Linked DNA regions of Homo sapiens: region 1 is reported to be linked to region 2. Evidence: microRNA targets listed by miRTarBase, many of them from high-throughput screens and not tested one by one. Region 2 holds a microRNA gene; the other region holds the end of a gene's coding sequence.
The links. The annotated mature microRNA hsa-miR-6739-3p reads AUUGUUCUGUCUUUCUCCCAG and lies in region 2 at 1,852-1,872, shown strand. An mRNA with a match to its seed (bases 2 to 7 or 8) in the 3' UTR can be bound and repressed. Matches are read on the target gene's strand: a 7mer-m8 pairs with bases 2 to 8, a 7mer-A1 pairs with bases 2 to 7 and ends in A, and an 8mer does both.

Region 1: miRTarBase lists CAND1 as a target of hsa-miR-6739-3p. Seed matches in the 3' UTR shown: 7mer-A1 at 1,637-1,643.

What each region holds. Positions count from the first base shown.
Region 1 is chr12:67,312,356-67,315,769 of GRCh38, forward strand. It overlaps CAND1 (cullin associated and neddylation dissociated 1), which reads left to right. Exons shown (of 15, transcript NM_018448.5): 15 at 251-3,414. The coding sequence ends at 475. Among named protein-coding and RNA genes, the nearest start is that of CAND1, 45 kb to the left of the region's middle.
Region 2 is chr1:201,861,576-201,864,989 of GRCh38, forward strand. MIR6739 (microRNA 6739) reads left to right here and starts at 1,798; the gene lies at 1,798-1,872. It overlaps IPO9 (importin 9), which reads left to right. Exons shown (of 24, transcript NM_018085.5): 14 at 1,873-2,032.

The DNA of each region.
Region 1 (3,414 bases), not on the chromosome of region 2:
ACTCTCTTTGTTACAATCATTTGGGTCTAGATTTTCTGTTTTTATAATGGGGCTTTGTGTAAAATATTCCCTTAAAAGAAAAGGAGACAGCTACTTTAAAAATAAGTTTAAAAACAGTTGTTCTTAGAATGTAATATGCCTTATGGACCTACGAGAGTAGCTTTTAGCAGGAAGATCTTATGTGCTTAAATTTTGTTCATGTAAGAGCTGTCTTTTATAGCATGTAATCTAAGTTTACTCCATCTTACAGGTAAAGGCAAACTCAGTAAAGCAGGAGTTTGAAAAACAAGATGAATTAAAGCGATCTGCCATGAGAGCAGTAGCAGCACTGCTAACCATTCCAGAAGCAGAGAAGAGTCCACTGATGAGTGAATTCCAGTCACAGATCAGTTCTAACCCTGAGCTGGCGGCTATCTTTGAAAGTATCCAGAAAGATTCATCATCTACTAACTTGGAATCAATGGACACTAGTTAGATGTTTGTTCACCATGGGGACCATTACATATGACCATACAATGCACTGAATTGACAGGTTAATCATAAGACATGGAAAGAGAAGTGTCTAAAAGCTTCAAAATGTTCCACTTTTTTTTCCTTCATGGAGACTGTTTGTTTGGCTTTCTTCCATTGTTGTTTTTGTAGCATTTATTTCAGAAATGTGTATTTCCATAATCCAGAGGTTGTAAAACCACTAGTGTTTTAGTGGTTACAGCAACATTTGAAATGGAAACTAAAAGTTAGGATTTTATGGAGTATGGAGATAGGGTCCAGTATCTATTTACCCTGTAATGTTTAGGATTAAAATGTTAAAATTTTGTGACCATGAATTTCTTTCTTTTATAAATTTTCTCATTTAAAAATCAAAAATCTTGCAAAACAAAAACCATGTTTCTTTTTCTTGTATAACTTTTTGTTTTCAGCAACATAAATTGATTTTTAGCTGGCAGACAAGAATATCCATATAAGATTTGTTAACCATTTCAGAGAGTTTGGCAATTTTTAAAAGATAATAAGGTATCATTTTTAAGTATGAAAATTAACAATATCCCTGTTGCGCACACTAATTTTGCATGAGTAAGTTTACAAATATGTATCGTCTGTAAAGCAGCATGTGCAGATTATTCATAATATAGAAGTTAAAATAAGTATTAGTGCAATTTTCAGATATTTATTTTTGCACAGAAAACACATTATCTGGAGAGAAAGAAAGGAGAATTTTTGAGACTTGGGTTTTCTTAATGCCAGTGTGAATTTGCAGATGTTTTCAGAAAATCAAGTCACAGTAACAATTTGCCACTTTTTTCTATTATAAATCTTCTTACTTAAATTTTGAATATTTAGTTTTTCTCAGTTACCCATTTGTGTGTGTGTGATTCCACTTAGAAATTCTTAAAACCAGATTTTTCTTTCATTCCGTTTGGATGTCTACATTCCTTATCAAAGGATATAAATACTGTGTATGCTTTTGAATTTTATTTTTAGGAAAATTCTGAAGCCAGCTATCACAGGTTTGTTAGCTAATAATAGTATTTTCTTTTAGTTGAGTTAGGTTTTTCCCCATCTCCTGTAGAGCGAATTTACATATTGTATTGGGTAAGTGTTCACTACTTTTCCTGATTAAGGGATCTGTGCTGGGGAACAAAGCTTTTGCAGTACCTTATATTGTAGTTAAAATTTTATTTAACATATCCTTCAGTGAGCTCATTTCACACTGTAGCCTCTTCCTTAAAATTTGTGGTGCTCCTGTAACAGTAAGAACTAATTCTGAAATAAAAGACATCTCCTAATGCTGTGCAAACATAGTTTACATGTATTGAAGGAGGCAGTTGTTAAATTGAGTGACCAATTTAAGCAATCAGATATTTGAAAACTGCACCCTTTAGTTTTGAAACTGTGAATTAGAAACACTTTTCCTGCTGTATTACTACCTGCTTTAACATCCAAATATACAGTGATTTTAAATGATAACATACTGTGGTTATTAGATTAACAGCTTGATTTTGAATGTTCAGATGATAATGCAGAAGACATCACTTCTAGTAAGGATTTTGACTAGTGCATTGATGTTGAAGTTGGTGCCATTTCAAAATGTGGCAGGTGATAATCTTTTACCATAATTTGCATAAAACTGTAATAGAAGTTTATTTTGAGATGTTAGTATATTATGTACTATGCATTTCTGTGGTATAGATGTTGTGGATATATTTAAGTATTTGGTTACATGGTTTTACAATAAATTACAATACTGCAGGCTCTAGGACTGAACAGGAGACTGACATGCATATGTTGTGTGAATGTCTTAGTTGGGTAAAGTTAAATCCAAATACTTCAACTGGCTTTTTCTTCAGTTTGTTTGTTTTTAACTTTCAAGATGCATGTTTTGTTTTGTTTTGCTTTGTTTTTGTCTCTTAAGCCAATTCATTTTTCTAACAGTTGAAATTCTTTTAGTACTAAAGAAATAGATACTGCTCTTTTATGGCTTTAGTGTTTATATACCTGTTTATATGCATACATTAACAAAATTAGTAACAGCAGTGCTTAGAATTTCAATGCTGTGTCATACTGATGATTAACTCCATACTCCTAGTGGTGATGTGGTCCAGATACTGGAATGGAAGTGGCAGGATGTGGAGTCCAGACATAGTCTACCACTCATGCTACTTACTAGTAATATTAAGGTGTTAAACTTAGGAATTTGTCACATGTAGGTTCCTGAGGAGATCTAAAAGTTAATACAAAACCAAGCTGTTTACTGATTTTCATGAGAACATTTAAGTTAGTTTAGGTCTACCTGATTTATTTTAAAAGAAGGCAGAGGGCTGGACGCAGTGGCTTACGCCTGTAATCCCAGCACTTTGGGAGGCCGAGGCGGGCGGATCACGAGGTCAGGAGATCGAGACTATCCTGGCTAACACTGTGAAAACCCATCTCTACTGAAAATACAAAAAATTAGCTGGGCGTGGTGGCAGACGCCTGTAGTCCTAGCTGCTACAGCTGAGGCAGGAGAATGGCGTGAACCCAGGAGGCGGAGCTGGCAGTGAGCCGAGATCACGCCACTGCACTCTGGCCTGGGCAACAGAGCGAGAGTCTGTCTCAAAAAAAAAAAAAAAAAAAAGGCAGGAAGGAAATTTGGTATGGCAGGGCCTAACCTAAAAGGTTATTTATAAAATCAATAGCACTGAATGATAATTTTTTTAATGACAGTCATGTATTTTATTAATGATATCTGAAAGCTGCTTAACCATTAGGAATTACAATTCTTTATGGTTGGAGTATGATGATTTCATCAAATGTTTGAATATTTACATAATTTTTATGTAACCATAATTAAACCAAATTAGTCTTTTTTTCTTCATACTTTTCTTCGGTAAATAGTGAAGAAATAATGGGCATATCTAATTAACCAGTTCTAGT
Region 2 (3,414 bases):
TTTTCAACTTACGATGTGTTTATCAGGAAGTAACCCCATCATAAGCAGAGGAGCATCTGTATTGCGTAATTTGACTGGCACAGTTTATTAGGTTCTGTTCAGTGTTTTCCGTCAACAAGATGTTTATTGTGTGAGTAAACAAGTTAAGCCCTGTGACAAGCTGAATAAGAATAGTCTCTCCTCAGCAGCTTATAGTAAACAAGGGTAGTAATCCTTACATTAGTGGCTAGACTATCAAACGAAATATATAACATGTAAGAACACTAAAGACAGAATTACTGTGGCATAGAGATAGTTAGAATTGCTTCAGCCTAAGAGATGAATTAGGTAATGCAAGGAGGTGAATATGTTGGCTTGCAATATGAACAAGGCAGAGAGCTGGGAGAGTAAGATGTAAGTTGCTAAGGAGGGATGTGTACTTGAGTTTGGAAACCATAAAGGGAAATCATAGGTAATGCTAGAGTCACTGATCTTAGGGAGCCTTGAATAACGTGATGACTAAGGTAATCTTTATTTGGTGGACTATGGAATTAATTGACAGATTTTAAATAGAAGAATGACATGATCAGAGCTATAATTTATGTTTTAAGAGTGGTCCAAGGCTGCACGCGGTGGCTCATGCCTGTAATCTCAGCACTTTGGGAGGCCAAGCCGAGTGGATTGCTTGAGTTCAGGAGTTCAAGACCAGCCTGGCCAACATGGTGAAACCCCCTCTCTACTAAAAATACAAAAATTAGCCAGGCGTGGTGGTACGCACCTGTAATCCCAGCTGCTCGGGAGGCTGAGGCAGGAGAATCGCTCGAACCCGGGAAGCAGCGGTTACAGTGAGCTGAGATTGTGCCACTACACTCCAGCCTGGGCAACAGAGCAAGACTCCATCTCAAAAAAAAAGAGTGGTCCAAAAGTGGGAATAAACTAGCAATGGAGATGGCAACTTAGAAGATTAAGTGGGCGGGTACCATGGCTCACACCTGTAATCCCAGCACTTTTGGAGGCCAAGGCAGGCAGATCACCTAAGGTCAGGAGTTTGAGACCAGCCTGACCAACATGGAGAAAGCCCATCTCTACTAAAAATACAAAATTAGCTGGGCGTGGTGGTGCATGCCTGTAATCCCAGCTACTGGGGAGGCTGAGGCAGGAGAATCACTTGAACCAGGGAGGTGGAGGTTGTGGTGAGCCGAGATCGCACTGTTGCACTCCAGCCTGGGCAACAAGAATGAAACTTCATCTCAAAAAAAAAAAAAAAAAGATTAACTAGTAGTACAGGTAAGGAATAATGAGAGCTGGGGGTGAGGACTGGGGTGGTAAAGTCTTTTTAGTCTAATAATATTCAAGATCTACTTTGCTCAGAAGAGACAAGGGAAAACTGGGAAATTGATTTTGTACCACAGGTCACACATTTGCTTTCATCATACAAGGTTATGCTTTTTCTCTCAAATGAGTTGTACATATTATGTAGCATCTATTTACTTCTAAAAAATTGAGGAATGGAGGGCCGGATGCGGTGGCTCATGCCTGTAATCCCAGCACTTTGGGAGGCCGAGGCAGACAGATCACTTGAGGTCCAGAGTTTGAGACCAGCCTGGCCAACATGGCAAAACGCCATCTCTACTAAAAATACAAAAAATTAGCCGGGCATGGTGGCAGGCGCCTGTGATCCCAACTACTCAGGAGGCTGAGGCAGGACAGTTGCTTGAACCCGGGGGACGGAGGTTGCAGTGAGCCGAGATCACGCCATCGCACTCCATCCTGGGTGACAGAGTGAGACTCCATCTCAAAAAAAAAAAATTGAGGAATGAATGTGGGAAAGAGAAAGAACAAGTAAAAGGAATTTTCATTTTCCAGCCCCTAATTGTTCTGTCTTTCTCCCAGTGTCTCCTTTCCTCTTGGGCCGGGCACTTTGGGCTGCCAGTCGGTTCACTGTTGCTATGTCCCCTGAACTGATCCAGCAGTTCCTACAGGCAACAGTTAGTGGTCTTCACGAGACACAGCCCCCATCAGTTCGAATTTCTGCAGTGAGAGCCATCTGGGGGTGAGTATGCTACCCTAGCGTGATAATTAAGGGAAAGTTGCTCAGGTTAGATATAACAAATCACAGTTTTCCAGTGTATTATGTTGCTTGGAAATCCCTGCTAATGATATCCTTCAGGGTGAATGTTGGAAGGACAGGGAAAGAAACCATGCTAGAGACATGGCTTTTGTGAGTCCAGAAGATGTCCTGTTCCTTTCTGCTCCTCTTCCTCTTTAAATTCGCTCCAGTTCTGGAATCATCTAGGCAACTCCCTTTCTCTCAATGGTGAAGAACCTGAGGTTTGGAGAGAAAAATGTTTTGCACAGGGTTGCACAATTGATGAATGATAGAAGCAGGATTAGAGTCCACATCATTTTGTTGGTTGATTATATTAGAAACCAAATCTGGGATAATGTGACCTAGAAACACTGCTTATTTTTTCCCAGTTTTACCTATCTTTTTTAAGGCTAGTGTTACTAATGGATCAAAAGTCATTTATTTATATTCCTACGCAGACTAGAAGGACCATTGTTGTTTTAAGGAATATCTTAGGCTCAAACTTAAACATCTCAACTGAATCCTATAACTACCAACACAAAATTTATTTTCCATGTGCCTGCCCTGTCTTATCTTTTGAGGCAGAGGAGTATCTTTTGAGATGCCGTGTGTTATATGTCATTAGAAAGCATTCAAGAACTGCCTGTTTTAATTAAATGGTTAATGTTATGACCATAAACACCGTCCCATCTTTTTCTGCTTCAATCTAGGTGAAGCAGATCTTTGGCTCTAAAATAATTAGAAGTATCATCTTAAGAGGCAAACTAAGTATAGCTTTTTCAGAAAGCTCTAACACCATTTTAAATGTCTGAGAAGAGAGAGCCCTAAGCTGCTTAAGGCATGAATGTTATTTTAAGGGTTTTTCTGAGTTTGTACCTGTGGTCACTGCCTGTTTAGCTTCTGACCTTAGTGAAACTTGATTTCATTGGAGAATTATCCACTTTGTGTTGTGATTTTATGGAAATGTTTGCAGCTGCAAGCTGTGAGAGGAGTTTGGTATGAATGTGAAAGTACTTTGGGTAAAATAAGCCCATTACTTTCCAGAGTGTTTTAGGTAGACAGCAGTACCTATCAGGCATACTTACCAACATTGATTCTCTCTGGGGGAGATTAGAGTACAAAGAACTTTCATTCTCTGTTATATATATAAAATATTTTGTTTGTTTGTTTGTTTCAACAAGTTTATATTACTTTTATAATCAGAAGAACTGTGAAGAAAACTTTTATTTTTAATGTTCATATCTCTTGGACCACATGGGTAGTGGTTTAATAGTTTTCTTGAGAGATGTAACAGATATCTCTGTAGGATGACAAAAGCTGTGGATATGTGGGCCAGAGAAATGGAC